Homo sapiens: one gene and its partners. The protein of the gene in region 3 interacts with the protein of the main gene of each other region in a pairwise test. Each region holds a gene or a part of one and is shown on either strand. Other genes may lie near its edges. The genes, in order: ALG8, NSG1, CYB5R3 and VAMP1.

Region 1 (7,025 bases), on a different chromosome or scaffold from region 3:
TTACATCTGAATATTATTATGAAAATAGTACATATTTCAAACTCCTTGAAAGGGTCTCCCTGTGAGTCCCTGAATCACACTTTGAGAACTGCTGCTCTACAGTATTCCATTGTGTGAAAACACCACAATTTATTTAGCTATTCTGCTGTTTGTGGACATTTATCTCCACTTTTTACCTGTTGCAAATAGTTTTACTTTGCACATTTTTTTTTTTTTTTTGAGACGGAGTCTTGCTCTGTCGCCCAGGCTGGAGTGCAGTGGCGCGATCTCAGCTCACTGCAAGCTCCGCCTCCTGGGTTCATGCCATTCTCCTGCCTCAACCTCCTGAGTAGCTGGGACTACAGGCGCCCACCACCACACCCAGCTAATTTTTTATATTTTTACTAGAGATGGGGTTTCACCATGTTAGCCAGGATGGTCTTGATCTCCTGACCTCGTGATCCGCCTGCCTCAGCCTCCCAAAGTGCTGGAATTACAGGTGTGAGCCACCGCGCCCGGCCCCACTTTGCACATTCTTACAGTACGTGTCTTTTAGTGAGCATACTATGCATTTCTGTTGGGTATACGTACTTAGACTTGGGATGGATGGGTCATCAATTCAGTTCTGAGTGGAGATTTTGAAATATCTGTAGGAAATTCAAGTGAGATTGTTAACAGGAAGTTGGAGGTGTCTGTCTCCACAACTTAGTAAAGAAGCCAATGTTGCATATTGAAATTTGGGAGTAGGCCAGGCATGGTGGCTCATGCCTGTAATCCCAGCACTTTGGGAGGCCGAGGCAGGCTGATCACGAGGTCAGGAGATCAAGACCATCCTGGCCAACACAGTAAAACCCCATCTCTACTAAAATACAAAAAAAAAAATTAGCCAGGCGTGGTGCCGCGCACCTGTAGTCCCAGCTACTTGGGTGGCTGGGGCAGGGGAGTCGTTTGAACCTGGGAGACGGAGTTTGCAGTGAGCCAAGATCGCACTACTGCACTCCAGCCTGGCAACAGAGCGAGACTCCGTCTCCAAAAAAAAAAAAAAAAGTAATTTGGGAGTCATCATTATACAATTGACAGTGGAACCAGAAAGTTTGCATAAGATTGTCCAGAGCAGAATAAGTTGCGTAAAAAGGGGACCAAGAACTGAACCTAGGGGAATATCAACATGTCCCTGATGAATATAGGAAGGGAAAGCCATGACTGAGAAAGAAGGGTTGGCTGGAGGTAGGAGAAAGTTGTCATTGTGGAAAGGTTGTGTAAAATGTTGGAAAGGGTAAATTGGGCTTTGCTGTGGAACTCATTGTTCACTTTGGTGAGTGGATATTCAGCAAGAATGTATTGAGCTTGTCCATGCGTCAGGTACTGTTCTAAATGTGGAGGGGAGGTACAGCAGTGGACAAACAGGAAAAGATTTTTTCTAAAGATAGGTGATCCTTAGATATGTATAGTGATGGGAAGAGGGAGAATTTGGAGACATGGGAAAGGCAAAGCAAGGATCTTTTCCCACCTTCTCTGTCAGATGAACTCCTCATCCTTATGTCTTGGTATATGAGGCCTTTTTCAGGTAATGAATTTTGTTAGAATTGTTTGTGAGCAAGAGGAAGTCACTTCTGAGCAAAGGCCTGAGGGCCGCCTGTAAGAAAAAGTTTGGGCTAGGCCGGGCGTGGTGGCTCACGCCTGTAATCCCAGCACTTTGGGAGACTGAGGCAGGTGGATCACCTGAGGTCAGGAGTTTGAGACCAGCCTGGCCAACATGGCGAAACCCCACCTCTACTAAAAATTAGCCAGGATTGGTGGTACATGCCTGTAGTCTCAGCTGCTCGGGAGGCTGAGACAGGAGACTCGCGTGAACCCGGGGGGCGGCAGTTGCAGTGAGCTGAGATGGGTCCACTACACTCCAGCCTGGGTGACAGAAGGAGACTCCGCCTCAAAAAAAAAAAAAAAGAAAAGAAAAAGAGAAAGTCTGGGCTTCTTGTCAGCCCTTTAGGTAGTTCTGAGACCCTTTTCACTGACTTGTAGATTGCTCAACAACTTTCTAGAAGATCTGACCTCCAGATAAATGAGGTTTTACAGGATTATGTAATGTCTATTTGTGTCTCTATAGGACAGTGAGCTGTGACAGCTTAGGGAATGTCAGTCCATTTAAAAGCATAACTATGGGAATTAGAAATTGATAAATATTGCAAAATCTCATTTTATTTATCTAATTGTTTTGAGTAGCCATTCCACAGATTTTGAAGTACACCGAAACTGGCTTGCTATCACTCACAGTTTGCCAATATCACAGTGGTATTATGAGGTAAGTTTTAATTTTCACCTTTTTTTTTTTAAGATTCATCTATAAACTAGGTAAATATTACTGATATTAAAAATGTTTTCTGGCTGGGTGCGGTGGCTCACGCTTGTAATCCCAGCACTTTGGGAGGCCAAGGCGGGCAGATCATGAGGTCAGGGGTTGGAGACCAGCCTGGCCAACACAGTGAAACCCTGTCTCTACTAAAAATACAAAAATTAGCTGGGTGTGGTGGTGGGCACCTGTAATCCCAGCTACTCAGGAGCTGAGGCAGGAAAATCACTTGAACCTGGGAGGCGGAGGTTGCAGTGAGCCGAGATCGCGCCACTGCACTCCAGCCTGGGTGACAGAGTGAGACTCTGTCTCAAAAAAAAAAAAATTTTCTTGCAATCATAGATCTAATTAATCTTTATAAAAATTGTGGTCTCTTCTCAGTTCTGTCCTCTTGCACTACTAGGGAATCCCCTTACTTCAAAATGAGTTTCCCAGTCTATAAATTGGGAGGTATAATATCTACCACACTTTTTGAAAGAATAGTGGACTGGGAAAGAGGAAGAACTGGATTCTTAGGCCTGGCTCTGCCACTATCTAGTTACATAGAGAAAAGATACTTCATGTCTCTGGGCCTTAGTGTCTCATCTGGCACATGAGGATTTGGAGTGAATTATTTCTAAGATCCTGTCTGTTCCTAATGTTTTGTGATTTTGTGAGGAAAGGAATAATCAAATGTGATGTGTAGACATCAGGTAATATACAAACCATTCTCTCATATTGTTTATAAAAACTATGTCTGTATTTTTATTTCTTTTTCTTTTCCTTTTTTTTTTTTTTGAGACAGAGTCTCGCTCTTGTCACCCAGGCTGGAGTGCAGTGGCACAATCTCAGCTCACTGCAACCTCCGCCTCCCGGGTTCAAGCGATTCTCCTGCCTCGGCCTCCCAAGTAGCTGGGATTACAGGCGCCCGCCACCATGCCCCAGTTAATTTTTGTATTTTTAGTAAAGAGGGGGTTTCCCCATGTTGGCCAGGCTGGTCTCGAACTCCGGACCTCAGGTGATCCACCCACCTTGGCCTCCCAAACTGCTGGGATTACAGGCGTGAGCCACTGCACCCAGCTTGTATTTTTGTTTCTGGTATGAATTACTAAACTGTGTGTAATACTTTATGAAAAACAGACATTACTCCAGAAATTTCTTCTTTTTTTTTTGAGACGGAGTCTCGCTCTGTTGCCCAGGCTGGAGTGCAGTGGCGCGATCTCTGCTCACTGCAAGCTCCGCCTCCCAGGTTCACGCCATTCTCCTGCCTCAGCCTCCTGAGTAGCTGGGACTACAGGCGCCCGCCACCATGCCAGGCTAATTTTTTGTATTTTTAGTAGAGACGGGGTTTCACCATATTAGCCAGGATGGTCTCGATCTCCTGACCTTGTGATCTGCCCGCCTCGGCCTCCCAAAGTGCTGGGATTACAGGCGTGAGCCACTGCGCCCGGCCCAGAAATTTCTTGATGAAAAGCAGTACTCTGCTGACAGGGAGTTGGATTTTGTTTTGTTTTCTTTTCTTTTGAGACGAAGTCTCACTCTCACCCAGGCCGGAGTGCAATGGCACGATCTCGGCTGACTGGCGACCTCTGCCTCCTGGGTTCAAGTGATTCTCCTGCCTTTAGCCTCCTGAGTAAGCGATTCTCCTGCCTTAGCCTCCTGAGTAGCTGGGATTACAGGCACCCACTACCATGCCCAGGAAATTTTTTTTTTTTTTTTGTATTTTTAGTAGAGACAGGGTTTCACCACGTTGGTCAGGCTGGTTTTGAACTCCTGACCTCAGGTGATCCACCTGCCTCGGCCTTCCAAAGTGCTGGGATTACAGGTGTGAGCCACTATGCCCGGCCCAGGGAGTTTTTTTTAAGGCAAATTTTTTGCAAGTTTCCTATGAGTTTCGATACCATATATAGTATTTTATATGTATATATAAAATGGAATACCATAACCCATGAGGTAGATACTACTATCCCTGTTGTATAGGTGCAAAAAGTGAGACTTAGGCTGGGCGCGGTGGCTCACGCCTGTAATCCCAGCACTTTGGGAGGCCGAAGTGGGCGGATCACGAAGTCAGGAGATCGAGACCGTCCTGGCTAACATGGTGAAACCCCGTCTCTACTAAAAATACAAAAAATTAGCCGGGTGTGGTGGCGGGCTCCTGTAGTCCCAGCTACTCGGGAGGCTGAGGCAGGAGAATGGTGTGAACCCGGGAGGCGGAGCTTACAGTGAGCCAAGATCGCGCCACTGCACTCCAGCCTGGGTGACAGAGCAAGACTCCATCTCAAAAAAAAAAAGAAAAAGAAAACTGAGAGAGAAATCTAACAAAATATACTATTCTAAAGCTTGTATATTTTCATATGATTTCTGTTTTCATTTACTCATTAGCAACTGTTCCTTTAACTAGTGGTTATTTTATCCCAAGCAATATGTCAGGCACTTACTAAATGCTGAGGATACAAAATGATAAAGGATAGTTTCTATTCTCCAGGATCATATAACTTACTGAAACAAAATATAATAGCATTTGTGTATTATTTTGTTGTTTATAAATATATTTCATATGTATTATCTCATTTAATCTTCATAATACCTCATTTTACAAATAGGGAAATTGTGTCTCTAAGACAGAATTTGAACCTAAGTTAGTGAATTATTTGTTATTTAGATGAGTAGAACCATGTCATAACCAAGTTTATCATCTCCAGGTTTCAAATTAATTTCCTTTAAGTGTAGTTGACTCTATTTAAGGAAATTGAAGACCATGTTAAATAATTTACAAGACAGGTTTTAGTGTTCTGTTCAGTCTTACATAGGAATTGTTCTATTAATTTAGGGCATATTTTAAGTGCAACAGCATTTCACTGTGATTTTTGTTCGTTTGTTTTTAATTAAAAATAGAGACAGGGTTTTACCATGTTGCCCAGACTGGTCTTGAACTCCTGGGCTCAAGCGATCTGCCTGCCTTGTCCTCCCAAAGTGCTGGGGTTACAGGTGTGAGCTACCACGCCCAGCCTTATTGTGCTGTTTTAAAGACCAGAGAATGAAAAATTTTAAATCGTTGCACCATCTTTGTTTATTCAGTTATTTAGGATATGTCTGATCTTCTATTTTTATCACAGGCAACTTCAGAGTGGACGTTGGATTACCCCCCTTTCTTTGCATGGTTTGAGTATATCCTGTCACATGTTGCCAAATATTTTGATCAAGAAATGCTGAATGTCCATAATTTGAATTACTCCAGCTCAAGGACCTTACTTTTCCAGAGATTTTCCGTCATCTTTATGGATGTACTCTTTGTGTATGCTGTCCGTGAGTAAGTCTGGAGCATGTCATTTTGTATGGAAGGTATTGAAAAAATAGTACAGTGTTAAGTAGTATTAACTTACTCCCAATTTAGGAGGAACAAAGTTTATATGATAGCAAATGCTAAAACAATGAAAAATTGTATTGTGCTTTAAACTACATGTTTAAAGCACTCTAGCTGAATCTTGTGGAAGAAATGGGGATAAGGTGGAGTTACAAGGCAGAGGTAGAACAAGAGATTATGAATGTTGTGAAAAGAAGTAGTCCCAAGTATAGTTCTAGGGCCATTTCTCCCACCCAGAATAGCTCCATATGTTTTTCTTTGCTTCCTTGCAGCAGGCCGCCAGAGGCTTCCATCACCTACCCTATCTTAGGGTATGCACACAGTACATGCACAGTAGCGCACACGTATGGATTGTGCTAACCACCAAAGTCTGCTTTTACGGAGCTTTCATTCTAGTAAACTCAAGAAATTTCACTGAGTGCTTTTAGTTGTTTCCATATACTTTCCTTCATGAAGACTCTTTGTTATTTTAAGTTATGCTTATATTTTAAATTTTTATGTTTTACAACTTTTACTTATAAGTTAATTTTAAGTATTGAATACACATATATAGAATGTCTTGCACAGTGACTTCCAAGTACTAAGTTTCAGTTAATGTCAGTTTCCATTCTTTCCTAATTCTTTTTTTTCTTTTTTTTTTTTTTTTTTTTTCTTTTTTTTCCCTGAGATGGAATCTTGCTCTGTCGCCCAGGCTAGAGTATTGTGGCGCGATCTCGGCTCACTGCAACTGCCTCTCGGGTTCAAGCAGTTCTCCTGCCTCAGCCTCCCAAGTAGCTTGGATTACAGGTGCACACCACCATGGCAGGCTAATTTTTGTATTTTTAGTAGAGACAGGGTTTCACCATGTTGGCCAGGCTGGTCTTGAACTCCTGACCTCGTGATCCACCCGCCTCGGCCTCCCAAAGTGCTGGGATTACAGGCATGAGCCGCTGCACCGACCTCATTCTTTCCTAACTCTTAAGCTCGCTGGTGTGATTGTGACAGAACAGTGACTGGTGTTCATTCAGTGACCCTTGTCATAAATGGATCGTTTCTGTTTGTGAGGCCCTCTACACTGAACCCTTGCCCCACTCAGTAAAGAGTCCCTTGGGAATGTCTTTAACCCTTGCGCATTCTCATTGAATAATCCTGTTTGAAACCCTTCCTTTCAATCTGTTTATGACCTGGCAAGAGTTGAAAGGGAAGGTAATTTTTAATATACTCTTTTTAACTCAAAATGTTTGAATTCAAGCTTCCAGGGGAAGAGTATACAAGCACAAAGGGAGAGGAAATAGAATTCATTTCCATCTGCAAAGTAGAGGGAATAGTTAAAAAGATTGTTGAAAGGCCAGGCATAGTGTCTCATGCCTTTAA
Region 2 (7,025 bases), on a different chromosome or scaffold from region 3:
TCTCCACCCAGATGGGTGGTGCCCCTCCCTCCTTACCAAGATGCCAGAGTCAGAGGGGAGGGAGTAGTCAATCCACACCGAGCCTGCCACATTGCAGGGCCGTCCCACCCCGACTCAGGAGTCAGCACAGGGAGGGGTGGGGGGGTCTTTTTCCTCGTTCTCTATGCCACTTACTTACTACAGTGCACCTTGGCAGCAGTCAGCACTGTTACCCGCTGATGGCCGAGGAAGAAATGCGAAGTAGGCTTGCTCTTAGCACAGCGAGAGATCACTCTAGATATGGCTATGGAGGAAGGTTTGCAGACAGCAGGGTCGGTTCAGAAAATCAATTCCACAAAATGCATTTATCTGAGATCCAAACCCTTCGCATATCCAGTGTAAATTTATTTTTTTACAGCATCCAATAAATCCCAGTAAAGGAGCTAAATGAAGATCTTAACATGAAAAGTGGTGTCAGAGCTCTTTAGGCAATGCTGAAATGCACTTGATTTTATGCCCGTGGGTGGTCGGCAGCAAGTTTTATTTGCAAAGCAGCATTAGCAAACAGAAGCAATTGCACCGTAAATGAGTAACCTCTAAAGTATCAGTAATTATATTTAATGAAATGTCCCTCAAAGTCCCTTTGTTATTTGCAAGTGACACATTGTAAGGAACTTGCCCATCCCGCTAAGCTGACTTCTCAGCCGCTTCAGTCTCCTGCTCGGACAGCTTCTCTTCTGACAGAACTGACATCCAGGGCGATACGGAGCGCGTGATGCTCTGCTTGGCCAGGTTGTAGTGGTTTATGACTGTGTAAAATTTCTCCCGGGCACTGGAGTCTTGCTCCGCGTAGTAGCTCTCCAAGCCTTCTGGGATGCACTGGGTGTTCTGAAAGACAAGAGGCCACTGAGAGCACGCGTCGGTGCAAGAGGGGGTGCCAGTGTGTCTCCAGTTGGCAGCCAACAGTTACTGAGCACCTTCCCTGAGCTTGGAGGAATAGATACAGTGATGAGCAAAAACGGGCATGGATCTTGCCCTGAGAGAGCACAGCACAGGGGAAGCCTGGCCTTGATTATTCTTAATAGACTGGCTGGTGAGTGCCATGGCAGATGGGCACTTGGGCTCCAAGGGTGCCAGTGTAATGGGACAGCAGGCCTTACTTCACTGAAGATCTTGCACTAGTTGTCATTTTTAATCAATTGGAAAACAACAACTTATGAAATATCCCAAAACAACCAATTCAAATGAGGACGGAAGGGAAGTGAGAAGAGCTTCCCTTGAGCTAGGTTCTCAGCAGACCTTAGCTAGGTGAGATGAGGGAGGGGCAGCACTCAAGGCAAAGGAAACCAGAGCAGAGAGGGGCCTTGGGGCGGGAGTCAGAAGAGGCACACAGAGCCACTAGGTGGTCATGACTAGGGGCTGGGAAGATGGCGAGGGGGTAGGGAGGGGCCGTGGGTTGGGGGAGTGCGAGACAGCACTTGGGTCTTACAGAGGTTTATCAGGAAGCGGATTCTGGCAGCAAATCCACACCCCCATTCCCTGCAGGCCAGGCCCTGTGGTTCAGGCAGGGCCGGGGGCGTTTTCCCTGTTTTGGCAGCTGTGGCTGCAGCCTGTCCTTGAGGTGAGTGGCTCACCTCCACGGGCTTAAGGCAGGTGTACAGGGATCAGCTCCTGATGCCACCCAGCCCCCATGGGGAATCCATTCTCTGTTACCAGCTCATTGAACCCTGAAGTCTAAAGATGAGAATACTTTATACCTGCAAGGCCCTTGTGAACAAAGAGCTATTTTCAAAAGAGAAATGACAAATGGAATGTGCTTCTCACCAACACTGCCCCGCATCCAGTGTTCAGGGGCTGCCACTGGCAGGAGGGCGGCGCTACAGGAGAAGGGAAGCTTTGGAGCCAGGCCCACCGTACCAGCTGAGTTCACGTGCGGAGTGTTTTCTCTCTCAATCTCAGGTCCCTCACCTATAAAATGCGGCCAATGAGTCACACCACCGTGTTGCTGAGGACTCAAGTCAATGCACAGTGGCTCAAGTAAAGAAGCCAGGATGTGCCCCAGGTCACAGTGTGGACAGAAAAGAAAGCCAAAAGACACCACTGAAGTACAGCCCTTTTATCAACAGCGTCTTGATCTCAGTCCCACCAGGACGTCGGGAAGCACCTGACACGCTACAGAACAAACAGCCCATTCAGACCAGCAGCGCGTGCATCAGGAAGGAGGCTCTGCAGGCCAGACAAACTCCCCTCCAGCCTCACCGCCACGCCCCTTCACGCTGTCCTCTCCATCTGCTGCTCGTCATCCCTCAGGGAAACGGACCAAGGGTTCCCCTCTTCCCTCCCACCTCGGCACCCAGCAGAGTCCTGCAAGACCTGATGCGGCCAACACCTGTGGAGTGGCGGCCCCGCTCAGGGCTGGCATACGAGATGGCTCAGAAACGGCCCTGCCCTACAGGTGCCCCGCCCAGGGAGAAGGACAGATGGAGTCCCCAGATGCCTCCCAGACAACGTGGCTGCCCAAAGGCAAGGCTGGGGAGGCACCTTGGTGCCCATGGTGGCGAGCACCCCAGGGGGTGAAGGGCTTCCCAACGGAAGCAGAATGCAGAGGCCTTGCCGTGAGCCCACATGGGCCAGGGAAGGCTTTCTGAGAGGCTCCTGCCGCCCCCCATACCCATCTCATACAGAGCCACCCTCACCTGTGGGGTGTGTGCCTTGAGGGGAGCGTGACTCAGCTGGGCCTGCACTTGGAGGAGCTTGGGGAGGTTCCCCAACTTCTCTGGGCCTCATTCCCTCACCTGTGAAGTGAAGCTGATGACGGACCTGTCTTGTGGGGCACGGGAGGACTGAGGTAGCTACGTAAGTGTGTTCCCAGCACCCAGCACTCAGTCAGCACTGGAAAAGAGTAGCCACTAAGGTCCGGGTGCGATGGCTCATGCCTATAATCCCAGCACTTTGGGAGGCTGAGGGTGGATCACTTGAGCAAACCCAAGAGTTCGAGACCAGCCTGGGCAACATAGCAAGAACGTGTAACCTGTCTACATGAAAAAAAAGAATGGCCAATATAAAGGGAAAAGCCAGTATAAAAATGTGGGATTTGGGGCACTTTCCCCATTATGTTTAAAACTTTTTTATAAAACATGTAGTAATTTCATGTTGTTGTTGTTTTTTTTTAAAGGCAGAGGTAGAAACCTAGTGTCCTCTCGGGCCACGTCTGCCTTTTTCACCCTCCTCACGATATGCCTCAGCTTGGGGCCACTGGGAGTGGCTGTCCAGAAAAAGCCTGTCCCCTCCCCACTGCCTGGGGCTCTGAGGTCCCTGCCCTCAAGGTGTCGAGTCCAGTGTGCACATAGTAGGAGGTACTTAGTACATGCTGACTGTACCAAGTGAACTGAAGGGCGTGACCTTGGGCTCCACGAAGAGCCTCTGTACACCCTCTAACCACTGGTAAAATGGGGATATAACAGCATCCACCTCAAAGGGCTTCTGGATGCATTCTGTGAGCAACAGGTGTAAAAGTCCCACACAAGCTGCCTAGCGTTGGTGTGTGACAAACACACGCACAAATATGGAGGGAAGAGGTCAAGGGGACTTCATGAGCTCATGCCTCTCCTTTCTCCAGCTTCGGCCAAGGGCAGCTGGATACAGACCAGCAGCTCCCTGGCCTTCCTAGGTGCCTTCTCCGGAAAGGACACCCCCTCATTAGATGCTAGTGGAAAATGCCAAAGTCCCACAGGACATCACTCCAGAACAACTTATCAGGGGACTCTCAATTCCCAAGGCTGGCTGTGGATGGGAATCACCTGGAGCGCCTTTTAAACAAAAGGTGCCAGGCCCCTTCCATTGTGGCCGCCAGTCTCATCTGCAGCCGGACACAGGACTGGGGCTTCATCTCCTGGGTCATCTCCCACCCAGGCCAGGTATCCAGCGGGACTTGGGCTTGCAGGATAGGGAAGGCAGTTTTAGCCACCCCCTCCTCCCTGTGGGGAACCTGCTCCAGGCTCAGAGAGGATGAGCCAGGAAGGAAGCTCCAGGGCAGCTGGTGAAGCCACTGGCCTCAGTTATTTGTAAGTAGCCAGTTTCGGTGGGGACTTCCGGCCCCCAGGAAGCTGTCCTCTGCTGTCCTCTCTCCGGCTCAGGGCCAGCTCCTGGGCCTGCCCGTGCTCCCTCTCCATGACATCGGCCTCCCTCAGTAACTAGCTCTGCACCAGGCCCTTTCCTTTTACCCCTCTGCCTCCCAGATTAAATCAGTTCTCCAGTCTGCAGTCTCCCCTCCATCCCCAGCGCCCCAGTCTTCTCTTCCCTCAGCCACTGCAGCAGTCTCCTTGGTCATCTCACTGCCCCGTCTCTCCCTTCCAATCTCCAGCCTCCCCAGGTGACCCAAGAGGTCACCCTATCACTTCCCCCTCCTCCAGGGGCCTGTGCCTGGCACTCAGGATGCACCCGCTCTGGCCGTAAGCTGGTTCATCCTCTGCCGCCTCCCTGTGCCTGTGGCTAGCCCCCCACCAGCACACCCCCACCAGCACGTCCCCACTGCCCGCTGCTCCCTCTGTGCTCCTCTACCATCACAAACCCCTTCCCACTGGGTCAGGGCCAGCACTGCCCTCGTTCCCTGAAGCCCGCACCCTCCGCTTCTGCTTGTTGTAAAGCCCTGGTGTCCTCTCAGCCTCCAAAACAGACTCAAACTCTCCCAGCCCCAGCCTAGGGCGTGGACGGGGCTTGCTGAATAAAACATGAGTGAAAGGGTGGGGGCTTTCCTTGGCTGGGCACACTCCCCCAAGACCCGCAAGCTCCCTGGCTCACCTCCTGGAGACCCGCTCCTCCAATGTGGACCATCCTTCTAGAAACTACCGCCCACATGCCCATGCCCAACCCCTGGGCCCTCTTTCCTGTCTGTCTATAGCCTTCACATTCAGTGTACGACTGACTTCCTCACCGTTCATTTGAGAATGTAAGAGCCTCGTGAAGGCAGGGGGCTGTACCTGACTGGCTCTCGGCTGTGTTCCAGCGCCTAGAACAATAGCAAGAGCTGCTGGCACGGGGTGGGTGCCATGTACATGCCTGCCCAAGGGAGGAAGAGCTGAATGTCGGGAGCCTGAAGGACAGCATGATGTGCAAGGAGAAAAAGGGACTTGGGCTGGACAACGTGAATTCCAGCCTTTCCTGCTAATCGCGTAAGGACTCTCTGCGTCCTCATATCAGCAAAAAACAAAACCTAAATGAAACCCAAACCCAAGCTACCCAGTGACAGCTGCCAAGCCAGGCTTCCCTGTGCACGTGCTCAGTGCTAGAAACAGTTGGCTTCTCCTGCTTTATTTTAATCTCAGCAGTGCCAAGCCCTGGAGATGAGCATCTCACACTGACTCTGGGAAGTTCAGAGCCAGCTACTGAGTGTATGGATAACGGGAGCCCACAGCTACCGAGTGTATGGATTCCGTGAGCAACAGGTGTAAAAGCCCCACACAAGCTGCCTAGCGTTGGTGTGTGACAAACACACGCACAAATATGGAGGGAGGAGGTCAAGGGGACTTCATGAGCTCACGCCTCTCCTTTCTCCAGCTTTGGCCAAGGGCAGCTGGATACAGACCAGCAGCTCCCTGGCCTTCCTAGGTGCCTTCTCCGGAAAGGACACCCCCTCATTAGATGCTAGTGGAAAATGCCAAAGTCCCACAGGACATCACTCCAGAACAACTTATCAGGGGACTCTCAATTCCCAAGGCTGGCTGTGGATGGGAATCACCTGGAGCGCCTTTTAAACAAAAGGTGCCAGGCCCCTTCCATTGTGGCCGCCAGTCTCATCTGCAGCCGGACACAGGACTGGGGCTTCATCTCCTGGGTCATCTCCCACCCAGGCCAGGTATCCAGCGGGACTTGGGCTTGCAGGATAGGGAAGGCAGTTTTAGCCACCCCCTCCTCCCTGTGGGGAACCAGCAAGTGCGTTTTACAGCCACACGCGGCATAACAGCATTTGGGTCAACGATGGACCACATGCCATGGTGGCCCCATAAGACTGTCACGGAGCTGAAACCTCCTGTCGCCTGGTGACCTCGCAGCCACCGTGTAGACGGAACACAACACACTCCTCACTTTGCGGAGGTGCTGGTATACACACACCCCCTGCACTGTCAGCTGTATAAACGTCTTGCACATACAATTACATACAGAACATAATACTTGACAGTGACAATAAACGCGTATGTTACTTGTTTATGTTACCGTACTATACTTTTTAATCAGTATTTTAGAGTGCATGCCTAGTTATTAAAAAAAAAAAGTTAACTCTAAAAGAGCTTCAGGGAGCTCCTCCAAGAGAGATTCTGGAAGAAGGCAATGTTTTGTTTTGTTTTGTTTTGTTTTGTTTTGTTTTGTTTTGTTTTGTTTTTAGACGGAGTCTCCCTCTGTTGCCCAGGCTGGAGTGCAGTGGCATGATCTCAGCTCACTGCAACCTCCGCCTTCTGGGTTCAAGCGATTCTCCTGCCTCAGCCTCCTGAGTAGCTGGGATTACAGGCACCCGCCACCATGCCTGGCTAATTTTTGTATTTTTAGTAGAGACGGTGTTTCACCATGTTGGCCAGACTGGTCTTGAACTCCTGACCTCAGGTGATCCACCCACCTAGGCCTCCCAAAGTGCTGGGATTACAGGCGTGAGCCACTGCACCTGGCCTGGCATTGTTATCCTAAGAGATGACAGCCCTGTGCCTGTCACTGCTCCTGAAGACCTTCCAGTGGGACAGGGTGTGGAGGCAGAAGGCGGTGATACTGTGGATCCTGACCCTGTGCAGGCCTAGCTAATGTGTGTGTCTGTGTCCTTAGCTTTAACAAAAATGTGTTGGAAGTAAAAAAAGAATTAAAAAATTTTTTAATAGAAAAAGCACATGTAGAAAAATAATATACAGTTGTGCAAGATGTTTGAGCTTTAAGCTAAGTGTTATTACAAAAGAGTCAAAAACTTACATTTTAAAAGTTTATTGGCTGAGTGTGGTGGCTCACGCCTGTAATCTCAGCACTTTGGGAGGCCGAGGTGGGTGGATCACCTGAGGTCAGGAGTT
Region 3 (7,025 bases):
AAAATTAGCCGGGCGTAGTGGCGGGCGCCTGTAGTCCCAGCTACTTGGGAGGCTGAGGCAGGAGAATGGCGTGAACCCGGGAGGCGGAGCTTGCAGTGAGCCGAGATCCCGCCACTGCACTCCAGCCTGGGCGACAGAGCGAGACTCCGTCTCAAAAAAAAAAAAAAAAAAATACAAAAACTAGCTGGGTGTGGTGGTGGGCACTTTTAGTCCCAGCTACTCGGGAGGCTGAGGCAGGAGAATCGCTTGAACCCGAGAGGTGGAGGTTGTAGTGAGCTGAGATCATGCCACTCCAGCCTGGGTGACAAAGGGAGACTCCGTCTCAAAAAAAAAAAAAAAAGAAAAAAAAAATGCTAGGTCTTCCCCAGCCCTTTCCTGACCCCACCCCTTGTGTTGCAGGTCACAGACCCTCGAGGAGCTAGAGAAGGGTTAATATTAGCAAAGTTTTACTTTTTTTTTTTCTGCTCATAAATGACTCTGAAAAAGCCAATACGCAAGAGGCTAACACAACTGTAGTCTAAAGGCAACGTCGAGGTCACTGATATGTCCCTCAGACAAGAGGCACTGCTCAGAATCCCCCTGTGCTGGGGGTGAGGGAAGGAGGGGACGGTTTAGGACAGAGGAATAAATACATGTGGTTGTGGGAGTTCTGCCATCAGGGATGGTGGCCCCAGCCCAGGACCCCAAAACCCTGAGGCGGTGCAGTGGGCTGCCAACCCCCCAGCTCGGGGTTCCCCAAGGCTGCCTCAGTGTTTGGATGGGCTGGAAGGAAATGCTGAGGTTCTGGGAGGGCCCCATGGCCAGCCCCCTCTTCCCACTCTAGCCAGAGGAGAGCCAAGCTCCCGGCTGGCCAGGGCCCTGGGGTAGGGAGCAGTGCCCCCAAGAGGGCTTTCTGGTGTCAATGTCTCATGCAGCGTCAGGTGGTGAGGCCTGGGCCTGGCCCTGAGGCGGGAGTGGGGGTGACAGGCGAGGCTGGGGTGGGCCCTGGCACCTGCAGCTTTGGGCTGCCCATGTGTGTCTGCTGACATCCCGACTATGGTCCACGGCCGGGAATGGTGGGCAGACGGGGCTGCTGGCAGCCCTCAGCCTTATAGTGTGTGTGGGGGGTGGACGAGGGGTCATGAGGACAGGGATGGGGCTGGGCGTCTCTGGTAAGGACCAGTAAGTGCCAGGCAGGACGTACTCTGAAGGCTCAGCCGTGGCCCATCTGGGACACAGCCCTGCTCCCGAAGGGGCTCCAGGGGAACTGCTCAGCCAGGTGATTCACCAGGGCACGGGCAGGCCAGGCTGAACCCGGGGCCCCAGTGTGCGATGTGGGGAGGTGACTGGGTGAGCGTGAACAGGGCGTGGGGTGCGCGGGGCGGGTGGCCGTGTGACCGTGCCCGGCCCTCAGAAGACGAAGCAGCGCTCCGTGGGGTGGCCCACGTGGTCCAGGTTGGGAAGGCAGGCGTACTGGATCATGGGTGGGGGGCCACACATCAGCACCAGCGGCTCCTCCTCTGGGGGTGGAAGGTGGTCCCGGATCATCTCCTCATTCACGAAGCCCTGGCCGTAGTCCCAGGCTGTGGGGTGAGAGACCAGGTAAGCTGACGTGTGGCTGTGTGGTCACCAACCTGCTGACCGACCAACCCTAGGCGGTGAATTCCTTAAATGCTGAAGAATGGAGAGGCTGATCCCAGCAAACTGTCACCAGGACCCCCTGCCCCCAACCCTGACTCAAGCCTATGGCCTCAGGCCCTGCAGCCTGAAACCAGTGTACAAAGCCCATCATGGTTCCCCTGACTGCACTTTACAGTTTGCAAAGCCTTTTGCTTCCATTTGGCCTCCGGGGTGTCCCTTGGAACAACCCAGTGGGTGGACAGGGCGGGGAATATGAATCCCATTTTACAGATGTGGCAACTGAGGCCCAGAGGACCCAGAGTTGAGTTGCTCAAGATCACACAATGAGGCAGGGACACGACTGAGATGTACCTTCCAGGATCCAGAGGTCCCCAGGCTGGTGCTCTGCCCCAGGCTGCTCAGGGTGACAGTCTCTAACTGCCCCCACCTCCATGAGCCCACTGTGACTCCCCAAGAATGTCGGCCCATGAGGAACTGAGTCTCATCCACAGCTGTGTGTCCTGCCCCCTCGAGCCCTGAGCGCCCACGATGATATGGCTGGTCTCTATCCTTAGTAACCAGAAACAACCACCCCACAGCCCTCAACACCAAGAGAAAAGCTGCTGAAGCCTCAGGCCAGGAGGGCTGGCACTGGCTGACACAGACACCCTGCCTAGATGGCCCAAGTTTACAGCATACACTCCACGCTGTGAAGGTCCTGACGGGGAGGGGCCAAAGCAGTCCCGCTTGCCCTGGAACCAGGAAGAGTCTACTGTGCTGAGCAAGGGGGTCCTCTTTATCTCATGGACTCCATGAGCTAAGTCACTGACCACATTTCCCTTTTCACCTTGGCTGCTGGGAAGCCTGGAGTGATACGTGTGGCCCATTCACAGCAAGCGTACATTATAGTCCGTTTTTGTACAAATCCCAGTACTGATTCCATTCATTTTATAGCCCTGCACTTGTTTTTCTTTCACTCCCACTTTCCATTTGTGCCACTCTGACTCACCAGATGAGTCTTTGTAAGCCTCCTAAAATCCCTCTGGAACAAGGCGAGGCACAGAAAATAGTTTTATAGCTGGGCAATGGATCTGAAGTGGATCTGAAAGTACCTTGTAAAAACTGCATGGGCATAAACTGCTAGTGTACAAAATGTGCAGGTATGTAAGACACCTTTCAATTTCACAGCGATTTCTTTTTAGTGTGTGTGTGTGTGTGTGTGTGTGTGTGTGTGTGTTTTTAAGAGACAGGAATTGGCTATGTTGCCCCAGCTGGCAGGCAGTGGCTATTCACAGGTGTGATCATAATGCCCTCCAGCCTGGAGCTCCTGGGCTCATGTGATCCTCTTGCCTTAGCTTTGAATAGCTGGGACTACAGGTGCATGCCACCGTGCATGGCTTAATGTATTTTTCCCTGTACCTGTCCTGAAAGTGGCTCTGTGGGGGAAATACTCACTGCCCCTGCCTGGAGTCCTTGGGGCTCTCCTCATCCTTCGCTTAGCTACGGTACAGCCAGACTGGCCTGTTACCACTTTCTTTCTCAACCTCTGGAATTTCAGCTTACATTTAATGCTACAGCAGTACCTCAACTAATCTTGAATTGTGGGTCACAGTGGCAACAAATGTACACGAAAAATGCTAGGAGATCACCCAACTATTCCTCTCATTGGCAGGTAACTGTCCCGTGGTGGTGGTGCAGGTGCTGCTGCCTGTTGCCACCAGGGGTCAGCACTGGCCCCTCCCTGGGGGACCAGGCCTCGCTCTGGCCACAGGGCAGGGGCTCCTGCACGCACCAGGGATCTGGATCACTCATCTGGAATTGGGATGGGGCTAAACCCTGCCTCGCAGCAAGCTGGCCCCGCCCATGCCATTAGAAACTGCAGTCAGAAAGGAGCAAAGCAGCCTATCACTTCCTCCCTTTAGACTGACACATGGGTACAGGATAAAACGCTCTTTTCTTTGAGACGGAGTCTCGCTCTATCGCCAGGCTGGAGTGCAGTGGCACCATCTCGGCTCATTGCAACCTCTGCCTCCCGGGTTCAAGCCATTCTCCTGCCTCAGCCTCCGAGTAGCTGGGACTACAGGCACGCGACACACGCCCAGCTAATTTTTGTATTTTTAGTAGAGACAGAGTTTCACCATGTTGGCCAGGATGGTCTCGATCTCTTGACCTCATGATCTGCCTGCCTCGGCCTCCCAAAGTGCTGGGATTACAGACGTGAGCCACCGCGCCCGGCCTGCTCCTTTCGTTAGTAGAAGAGAAACAGCAGCTAGACTCCCAGAGCCAGTGCCCTGGCTGACCTCCGCTCCAGCCGCTGCCTGGCTCTGCTTGGCCCCCCACATCACAGGAACCCCGCCACCATAACCGCGCTATAATTTACTAAGAAACCTGCTCCCATTAGTCCTCTGCCTCCCCCACTGGAAGGTCAGCTGCGGGGTCAGGTTGGCTTCCTGAGCATACCAGGTGGAGCAGCCGACCTGGAGGGGGTGGGCTGACCCAGGACAGCAGGTCCAGCCAGAGGCCGGACACGGTGACAACCCACACATCCACCACCCCCTCCAGGCCTGGGTCTCTCAGCCTGGAGGCCTGGAACCCAAGCTGGTCATCTGAGAAGGGCGGCTGCTCCCTCAGGGATGGGCCCAGGTGACCCAGCTCCTAGGTGCTAGCCAGGTGGTGCAAGTCCCAGAGCCCATGTGCTCCTTTCTGGGAGGAGCAGAGGGTGGTGTGGACAGAGCTCCCTCATCAGTAGAGGGCATGCACCCCCTGACATGGATCATCAGCAGAGGGTGTGCGCCCCCCACCATGGATTAGTCCTGAGGAAACTGTGGGGCCGTAGGAGGTGCCGGAGGCAAAGCAGGGGCAGATGGCAGGACATGAGACCCCAAACTGGTGCTCACACGGGTATTCAAAAATGGTGCTTCCAACACTTAGAAATTTCCCAGAAAATGCAGGTCCCCAGCTTCTCTTGAAAAGCAGAGGCCCTGGCCACACAGGGCTATACTCCACAGCGGGATTGCCCACGGCGGATGGGGCTGTGTCCTCCGGACCAGGCAGATGCGCTCCAATTTACCGCAGTTGCCGCCACTCCCTAGTCTCTCAGCCCTGAAGCTAAACATCACCAGAATGTTTCCTGGGGAAGGCTGAGCTCTGCTTTTCTTACAGCAAAGAAGAAATTGAGATATTACTTATACCTACATCTCTATCTGAAGCCGAAAAGGGAAGGGCGCTTTAACTCCCAGAGGCAACCTCACTGCAAGTGGTGGAGGTGGGGCGGCCCTCACTCGCTGCCTCCAGCTTGGCTCTCCCACAACTCCCTTGGCAAGCAGCTCAGCCACTGGACAGGTGGAACAAGGGTAACCCCAACGTCGGCCCAGCCCACTCCCCAGGGCTGACAATGGGAGAGAAGATGGCCTTGGTGTAACTCGGCAGCACCTGAGAGTATGCACGCTGGGATGTGGAAGCAGCAGCCGCCACCGCTGCCCCGAGACTTGCCCCGAAGTGAGCCCCGCCCAGGGAGGGGACGCTGGCCTTCTCTGCCCAGCTGGGCAGTGCAGTGCGCCCGGGAAAGGACTCTGCCTCTGGAGGCGAGGACCTGGGTTTCAGGCCGGGCTGTGGTGGTTTCCGGCTGTGTGGCTTCAGTGAGCCCTTGTTCCTCATCTGTGAGACGGGGCCACACCACCTGCCTCCCACAGGGCCATAGTGAGTGCCAGATGTCGTCCAAAGGCTCAACGCCACAAACAGCTGGGCAAAGGTGAACTGTGGGCTGGCACCTCCCACCCACCCAGTGAGGGGCCTCCCTCACTCACCTTCAGGGGCTCTGTCCAGCGTGTACCAGAGCTTGAAGCGTGCAGAATGTTTGTTCCTGAGTTCCTCCAGCTCAGGTCGCAGCAGGATGTCCTTCTCGGTCTGCAGGGGACAGGGCCAGGCAGTCAGGAAGGATGGGTGGCAGACTGCCCCTGGAGACACTCAACAGAGACGCGCCTCGTCATCGCGCCCGCCTGCGGGCCACACGCTTGCGGAGCTTTCAGGAGGGGACTCGGCCAGAGATCACCCTGGCACCCCTCTCTCCTTGTCTAGCCTAAGGAGCCCCTCAAAGCTGCTGCTGAAGGGGCGAAGGCGTTCGCTAGAAACTCAGTGTGTCAACTGCTTCTGCTGTTGTGAGGAAATGGGCTCGATGTCCCGAGAGTGGGAAAAATGGAAAAAACTAAAGGCGGCCAAGCTGCGCGACAGCAAAAAGGGAAGAGACGGGAAATGTGCCAAGATACTCCAGGGGGTCAGCCCGGGAGCGGGTGTAACACATACAATAAGCAATGGCCCCGTGAGAAGGCTCAGGATTTGCACCCTCAGCCCTCCGGCAAGTCTTTTTGCGTTCTGGGATCTCATTCAGGTTGTACCTCCAGAAACCAGGAAGTACAGACACCACTCCCCACCCAACCTGGCCCCCTCGGGCCTTGCCCACACCCATCCTCCTGGCTGGCCTGCGGCTCCCCCACCCCCACCCGGCTGTCACAGAGCCCTACAGAACTCAGTCCAGCGTCATCCCTTCCAGGAAAGCTTCCTGGACCCTCCAGGGGCTATCAGGGATCTCCCCCTGAATCCCCCACCCGACTCCCCGCCCCCCACCCCCGTTCCACCTCTGATCACATCACAGGCTGCTGCCCAGCGTTTGCAGGTCACACAGGGACAGAAGGGGCTCCTTAGGTCAGTGTGCAGTGTCCCTGACCTCAGGGAACTCAAAGAAACCAGGGGCCAAAGAGCGCTGCCACCCAGAAAGGGCTGCCCACTAACAAATCGCTACTGAGCTCCCAGGCTGGGCAAGGGCGGGGTGGACTCTCCCCAGGAGGCAGCCACAGACGTGACTCCTCTGTTCCCAGGGCTGGGGAACTGCACCCACCCTCCGCGTAGCCCAAGGGTGCCTGAATACGGGAATCACCAGCTCCTTGGTGCTCCCCTCCAGCAGATGAGCTGTGTGAGGGGCATAAGCCTCAACACATCCCAGGGAACACGGGGTGTTGAACAGTTTTTCCAGTTTCTGAGGGTGGGAGGCTGAGGGCCCTTTCTGCCCTAATGGGGTGAGGACAGGGACAGGGACAGGCTTTGGGCTAGATGAACTCAAGGAAAAAAATACAGAAAATATGGAAGAAAAAGTACCTGAAACCCTTCAGAAATAATGACTGTTAGGATTTTTGTGTGCATCTTTTCACTTTTCTTTTTCTATTAACTATGTGTAACTTTCTTTTTAGGCCAGGCATGGTGGCTCATGCCTGTAATCTCAGCACTTTGGGAGGCTGAGGTGGGTGGATCACTTGAGCTCATGAGTTCGAGACCAGCCTGGCCAACATGGTGAAACCCCGTCTCTACTAAAAATATAAAGAATTAGCTGGATGTGGTGGCGGGCACCTGTAATCGCAGCTACTCAGGTAGCT
Region 4 (7,314 bases), on a different chromosome or scaffold from region 3:
ATGTCTCCAGGCCATGTCAGAAGCCTTCATAGCAGCCCCTCCCATCACAGGCCTGGAGGCCCAGGAGGAAAAAGTTATTTTGTGGGCCAGGCCCAGGGTCCCCATGCTGTGTGCAGCCTAGGGACTTAGTGCCCTGTGTCCCAGCCGCTCCCACTGTGGCTGAGAGGGGCCAATGCAGGGCTCGGGCCGTGGCTTCAGAGGGTGGAAGCCCCAAGCCTTGGCAGCTTCCACATGGTGTTGAGCCTGCAGATGCACAGAAGGCAAGAACTGAGGTTCGGGAACCTCCGTCTAGACTTCAGAAGATGTATGGAAACGCCTGGATGTCCAGGCAAAAGTTTGCTGCAAGGGCAGGGCCCTCATGGAGAACCTCTGCTAGTGTAGTACAGAAGGGACATGTGGGGTTGGAGCCCCCACACAGAGTCCCCACTGGAACACTGCCTAGTGGAGCTATGAGAAAAAGGTCACCATTCTCCAGACCCCAGAATGGTAGATCCACTGGTAGCTTGCACCGTGCGCCTGGAAAAGCCACAGACACTCAATGCCAGTCCGTGAAGGGAGCCAGGAGGGAGGCTGTACACTGTAATGTCTGTCAGCTCACCCCTTTTTATATTCAAGTTATTGGTTATGGTTATTGGTTTATATGCCCAGTTATTGGTTATGCTTCACACAAGATGAGGAAATCAGGGCTGCCATAAGGGCAGCTTGGAAAATCACCAAAGGCAAAGTCTATGTAGGTGGAGTGAGTCAGGACTGTTTGTTTGCTTTGTTTTTGGCAGAGAAAATGGGGGTTTCACTTAGATAGAATCTGGGGCCCAAAGCAATTACATTAGTTATGGAAACTGTTCCAAGAGCATAGACAGGAAGCAAAAATGCTAGAAATTGTCCTCAATGTGCATGCATTATAGACATTCTGTCCCTTCCTTTTCTGGATTTGACAGTCTCAGATGACTCCCTTGGTTACTTACATCCCAAAGAGAGATCTTGGTTTACTGTACTATACACACAGAGAATGTTCTCTCATTCTGTACCACTCAAAGTTAGTGTGTGGTCTTCAAGACAAACTCCTCTCCATGTCCCAAAACATGGAGGCTAAACTCACCTCCTAAAGAATTCCCAGAAGTATAACCTAAGTCATGAGATGTTCTCGGCCAAGGAAGCACCCACAGGCAGGGGGGAGATCTCTCAAATTTGATGGAGAATAGAAATTACAGTAAGAACTCCTCAAACAGAAGCAGAATCTCACCAAACATACTTCACAGGAGCAGTCCAAGAGTAAATGCAACAAAAATGAAACCACAAAGTCACCTAAAAGGAAATTATTTGACTAATTACAATAGAACTAATACCCAGAAGCTCATTCTCCTTGATTAAGTGAATTTCTTTTAGTCTAAAAAGATAGAGAATAACTCCTCAGAGAGGCTATGGTAGCAGATTACACCTGACTCATTCCCCATTTGAAGAATCACTTTTCCATTTCCCTCTAAGGTGCAAAGGAGGTAAAGCAAAGATAGACACAAAGTCATGGGAGCCACAAGACTCTTGTCCTGCCACTGAGCTAGCTAAGCAATCTAGCTCTCGACTTAAGGCAGAAAATTCAATGAGTAGGTAGCAGCCAGTGTTGGAAGCAGTCCAGGATGGTAGCACCAATGACAAGATTAAGGTCAGAGACCTCGTGATGCCCCGCTAGCCACCACGATTTTTCTGTTGCCTTCTGTTCATCCCACGTAGATACTATCTGGAAGCCCCCTCCCCAAAATGAAAACAACTGGAATTCTACGGCTTGCCCAAAATGCATAGAACACTCATATCTGGTTAAAACCATAGAAATCAAAAAGAAAAAGTGAAATGGCTATGAAGTATTTGCAAGGCCAATTTCACTTACTACTTGTTGGGAGTTGGAAACACTCAACAGTAAAATATCTAGGGATAATTACAACCCTTATGTAACACAAGTAAATCTTTCCCTTTTTTGTCACTTAGAGAAGCAACATAAATACATCTAGGACCAGGCCAGGGTAGTAATCAGAAAGAAAAATCTGTATTAGACATATTGAGGTCTTGACAGAGAAGTACTTCGTTTGTTTAGCCGTAGTTTTCCCTCAAGATCATGCGAAGGGGGTGATGTTGAAGACTGCTGGAGACTAAACTGTGTGTGTTGGAGGAAAGGGGGAAAGCTCAGCTCTCCCTATTTCTCCTCCAACTATTTGGTAAGACTCGGTGATAGAAAAACATCTCCTATACGAATGGCCTTGGTATGAACAGCCGCTTGGGATGACAGGCCACTATCCCACTACCCCTTGAGTCTTTCTGAGCTGCTCACCTGGTGCCAGAGAACTGGCAGATAAGTTTCTGCAGCTTTGCTCACTGCCATGAGGGGGGCTAGACATCACACTTTGGGTGAGGGGTAAACAAATCCAGAGATTGTAGGGCAACATAAGTTACCAACTGGCAGTTGCACCCATGACTGTCTTTCCTGAGGCGCTGAGTAGTGATTTAGCCAGATGACAGAAATACCTTTCGAGTCCCCTGCCCAGTTGTCTCCATCCACCACCCCCAGCCCCCGCCCTCTCCGAGTCTCCACTATACCAAAACCAGAATGAGGCGCCACTCAGACGAGAGGAGAGGGTGCAATGATTGTGGGACCCCTGCGCCCCTGCCCCGCCCGTGGGGTGCTAGCTGTGGCTGGTGCGAGAATGGGGTGCTGGCCCCCCTCCCTGGGGGTGGCCCGGTCCGGAAGCGGCGCGCGGTGGTAGTTCCCCGCGTTGCTGCAGCTGCTGCATTGCGCCATTTTCCGTCCCGCAGAATCGGGAGCTTGGGGCGAGAGTTGTCAAGGAGGTGCCGAGCCCCCACACCAGAGTCAACTCACATTTTTCTGACAGAGAGAGTGAGGGTCTGTTCCTCTCCGGAGGCTGCGGCGAGACACCCGGTGAGGGACGCTGCGGCTGAAGTGGACGGAACTGCCAAGCTCCGCCTCGCGCCGACTACCCCGCGGTCTAGCTGCGCTGGAACTTACTGCAGCTGCCGCGCCGGCCTCCGCCTTTATTAGTGCTGACCACGCCTCCCGGATAACGGTGACAACCCCGCGGCCCAATCCATGCCCAGGACGGTCGCCCAGCGCTACAGGCCTAGCCCGCCCCGCCCCTGCCAATTGCCAGTCACAACTCTCCTCTCATCCGACTCCGGAAAGGAGCGGTTGCTGTGAGGATCCTTCAGTGATCAATGCGACCATAGTTTGCGCTCCAGTCTGGCGGAGGGACGGGGCGGGGTGGAGATGAGGTCTGTCCCTTCGGAGGGCGCTTCAGCAGTTTGTTAGGCATTTGTGGTGCCTCCCAACCAATCGCTAGGCAGTTACTGAAGACCGTGCCCGCCCCTGCCCCACCCCGCGCCGGGACTCGCGCATTCAGCTGGAGGCGGCGGCTTCCTGGTGCGCGCCCAGCCCTGGTGCCCTGCTCTGGCCCTCGCTCCGCACCACCGCCCCGCCTCTAACTAACGCTCTGAGAGGGTGCAGGAGCCTCGAGACACAGCCACAAGCTCCTGGTGCCAGATACCGGATGCGGGGTTCCGTCCCACCAAAGCAAGCACGAAGCTTTCGTTCATTCGTTTCTTTCAACATAGCCTTCCTAAATTGAACTCCCTCCCAAACCTGCTCCAGTCGAGGTTACCACATCGACTCAGTTGCCCAGACCAGAAACGTGGAAACCATCCTAGATTTCCTCCCCTTCACCTTTACCTCTCCCCCAGTAATCTGCCAAATCGAGTTGATTTTTCCTTCTTGGCATTCCAGTGATTATCTCCCCTCTGCTCACTATTATCCCTTTCCTGGACTCCATCAGTTGGAAAATTCACCATTATTTTATGTCCCGCTAAGAAAAAAGGTTACAAGGCCGGGCGCAGTGGCTCACACCTGTAATCCCAGCACTTTGGGAGGCCGAGTCAGGCAGATTACCTGAGATCAGGAGTTCGAGACCAGCCTGGCCAACATGGCGAAACCTCTGTCTCTACTAAAAATACAAAACAGCCAGGCATGGTGGCGGGCGCCTGTAATCCCAGCTACTCGTGAGGCTGAGATAAGAGAATCGCTTGAAGCCGGGAGCCGACGGTTGCAGTGAGCCGAGATCACGCCACTGCACTCCAGCCTGGGCAACAGAGCAAGACCCTGTTTCAAAAAAAAAAAGAAAAAAGGTTGCAAATTATCTGTGACAAATGCTTTCCTTACCACTTAGCATTTTTGTTTTACATGTATTGAAAATATGGGTTTATATACATACCGATTTCTATATTTCACTCTTGTGCATGCATAAAAAGGGAAATAGAAAACAATAACATGGTAACTATCCCTAAAACTTCACAGAGACTGATTGTTAATGATTCACTTTTTTGACTCAGTCTTGGATGTCCACTAATTTCCACGCAATGTAGTCCTCTGTGCATTTCATAAGGGCTTTGGTGATGCAGCATTTCCTAAGAGTGTTCCTCTCCAGGCTCTAGAGTTTTCTTCCAAGCCTCAGACACCCATTTGGCAAGCTTTGATGCTCATGAGCAGGTATGACAAATATAGTTTGACTGCTGTCTGACTAATAGCTAAAGTGAAACATCCCAATTAGAAGATATTGAAATGCAAAAAAACAAACAAACAAGCACACACAAAAAACCCAAGTGCCTCCTAAGATCAATGATACATCATTCTGCTTCCAGTCTTGCCATCCTTTACATCTATTCTCTAAAAAGTCCACCAAAGTTATCTATCCAAATGTCACAAGTCTTCTTAAGGAAACAATTGCACTTGGAAACATAATGCATTCATCATATGTGTTTATCCCATTCTCCTCCTGAAACCACATCAAAATGGCAAGTTAGGGGGAAAAATGACAATTTGGGAAAATTTGCAAAAAATTATAAGCCCCCAAAGACAAAAAGAATGGGGCCGGGCGTGGTGGCTCACTCCCGTAGTCCCAGCTATTTGGGGGGCTGAGGCGGAAGGACAGCTTGAGCCCAGATGTTCCGGTTGCAGTGAGCCGAGATCACGCCACTGCACTCCCACCTGGGTGACAAAATGAGACCCTATCTCCAAAAGAAAAGAAAAAGGGCCAGGCGCAGTAACTCACACCTGTAATCCCAGCAATGTGGGAGGCCAAGGAGGGCGGATCACTTGAAGCCAGGAGTTCAAGACCAACCTGGCTAACGCAGCAAAATCCCGTCTCTACTAAAAATACAAAAATTAGCTGGGCATGGACGCCTGTAGTCCCAGCTACTCGGGAGACTGAGGCAGGAGGATCACTTGAACCCGGGAGGCGGAGGCTGCAGTAAGCCGAGATCTTGCCACTGCACTCCAACCTGGGCAACAGAATGAGACTGTCTCAAAAAAAAAAAAAAAAAGAAAGAAAGAAAGAAAAAGAAAAGAAAAAAGAATGGGAGGAAATATTTCTGGCAGCATGAATGCCTATTTATTCCCACCAACTTTCCCCTGAAAAAAAACTTAAAATCATTGAATGGTGACTCACGCCTATAATCCCAGCATTTTGGGAGGCCAAAGCAGGAGGATCACTTGAGCCCAGGAGTTCAAGACTAGCCTGGACAACATGGTGAAATCCTGTCTCTACAAGAAATAGATACAAAAAAATATAGCTGGGTATTGTGGCACACACCTGTAGTTCCAACTACTTGGGAGGCTGAGGTGGGAGGATTACCTGAGCCTGAGGAGGTCAAGAAAGCAGTGAGCCATGATCACACCATTGCACTCCAACCTGGGCAACAGAGTGAGACCCTGTCTCAAAAAAACGGGGTTGAGGGGGTGGCATTTTTTAAACTTTTTTTTTTTTTTTTTGAGACGGAGTCTCCCTCTGTCGCCCACGCTGGAGTGCAGTGGCGCTATCTCGGTTCACTGCAAGCCCCACCTCCTGGGTTCACGCCATTCTCCTGCCTCAGCCTCCTGAGTAGCTGGGACTACAGGCACCCGCCACCACGCCCGGCTAATTTTTTGTATTTTTAGTAGAGACAGGGTTTCACAGTGTTAGCCAGGATGGTCTCGATCTCCTGACCTCATGATCCACCCGCCTCGGCTTCCCAAAGTGCTGGGATTACAGGCGTGAGCCACCGCGCCCGGCCTTAAACTTTTTATTTTAAAGTAATTATAGATTCATATAAGGTGGCCAAAAAAAAAAAATACAATACAGGGAGGTTCCCCTAAACCCCTTTACCCAGTTCCCCCAACAGTAACATCTTGTATAAATACAGTTTAAAATTATTAAAATATTAAAACCAGGAAATTATCATTAGCAAAATCCAGAGTTTATTCAAATTTCACCGATTTTCCAAACTGGCATGTACCACCAAACACTTCTTTTTGTGTTCGTGTGTGTTTGAGTGGTTTTATGCAATTGTATCATGTGTAGATTTGTGTAACCACAACCACAGTTAGGATACAGCATTTTCACATTACTGCAAGGCTCCCATGTGCTACCCCTTTATATTCCAACCCACCGCCATCCCTAAACCTTAGCAACACTAATTTGTTCTCCATCTCTGTAACTTTATTTCAAGAGCCTTATGTAAATGTAGTCATGCTTTTTTCTATATCACGTAACCTTTCAAGATTGGCTTTTTTCATTCATCCAAGTTATTGTGTGTATCATTACTTTTTCAACCATCCAAGTTATTGTGTGTATCATTAGTTTTCACCACTGATTAATATTCCGTGGTACATTTAACCATTTACCTGCTGAAGGACATTTGGAGTGATTTCAGCACTGGGCTATTACAAATAAAGTTGCTGTGAACTTTCATACAGGTTTTGTGTGAACATAAATTCTCATTTCTCTGGGATAAATGCCTGAGTGCAATGCTTGGGCAGTAAGGTAATTGCATCTCTAGTTTTATAAGAAACTGCCTTTGCCTGTGTTGCCCAGGCTGGTCTTAAACTCCTGAGCTCAAGCAATTCTCCCACTTCAGCTTCCCAAGTAGCTAGGACTATAGGCATCATGCCCAGCTGTATTTTTCTTATTTTAACCATTCTAATATGTGTTCAGTGCTATCATTGTGGTTTTAATTCTTATTTCACTGATGGCTAATGATATCAAATATCTTTTAAAGTGTTTGCCTTGTATATATTATCCTATTTGATGAAATGTTGGTTCATGTCTTTTGGCCATTTTCTTTTTTTTTTTATTGATCATTCTTGGGTGTTTCTCGCAGAGGGGAATTTGGCAGGGTCATAGGACAATAGTGGAGGGAAGGTCAGCAGATAAACAAGTGAACAAAGGTCTCTGGTTTTCCTAGGCAGAGGACCCTGCGGCCTTCCGCAGTGTTTGTGTCCCT

The links.
Region 1: the proteins of CYB5R3 (region 3) and ALG8 interact in binary tests that used the Homo sapiens proteins (3 or more experiments, as listed by UniProt).
Region 2: the proteins of CYB5R3 (region 3) and NSG1 interact in binary tests that used the Homo sapiens proteins (3 or more experiments, as listed by UniProt).
Region 4: the proteins of CYB5R3 (region 3) and VAMP1 interact in binary tests that used the Homo sapiens proteins (3 or more experiments, as listed by UniProt).

What each region holds. Positions count from the first base shown.
Region 1 is NC_000011.10:78,122,614-78,129,638, reverse strand, and holds part of ALG8 (dolichyl pyrophosphate Glc1Man9GlcNAc2 alpha-1,3-glucosyltransferase), read left to right. Parts: intron 1-2,199; coding exon of another isoform or gene 2,200-2,202; coding exon 2,203-2,281; intron 2,282-5,424; coding exon 5,425-5,618; intron 5,619-7,025.
Region 2 is NC_000004.12:4,411,077-4,418,101, reverse strand, and holds part of NSG1 (neuronal vesicle trafficking-associated protein 1), read right to left. Parts: intron 868-7,025; coding exon 667-867; 3' UTR 1-666.
Region 3 is NC_000022.11:42,618,384-42,625,408, forward strand, and holds part of CYB5R3 (NADH-cytochrome b5 reductase 3), read right to left. Parts: intron 5,506-7,025; coding exon 5,406-5,505; intron 1,563-5,405; coding exon 1,390-1,562; 3' UTR 1-1,389. UniProt on the Homo sapiens protein: Catalyzes the reduction of two molecules of cytochrome b5 using NADH as the electron donor.
Region 4 is NC_000012.12:6,467,664-6,474,977, forward strand, and holds the start of VAMP1 (vesicle-associated membrane protein 1), read right to left. Parts: upstream 3,015-7,314; 5' UTR 2,869-3,014; coding exon 2,867-2,868; exon of another isoform or gene 2,803-2,866; intron 1-2,802. UniProt on the Homo sapiens protein: Involved in the targeting and/or fusion of transport vesicles to their target membrane.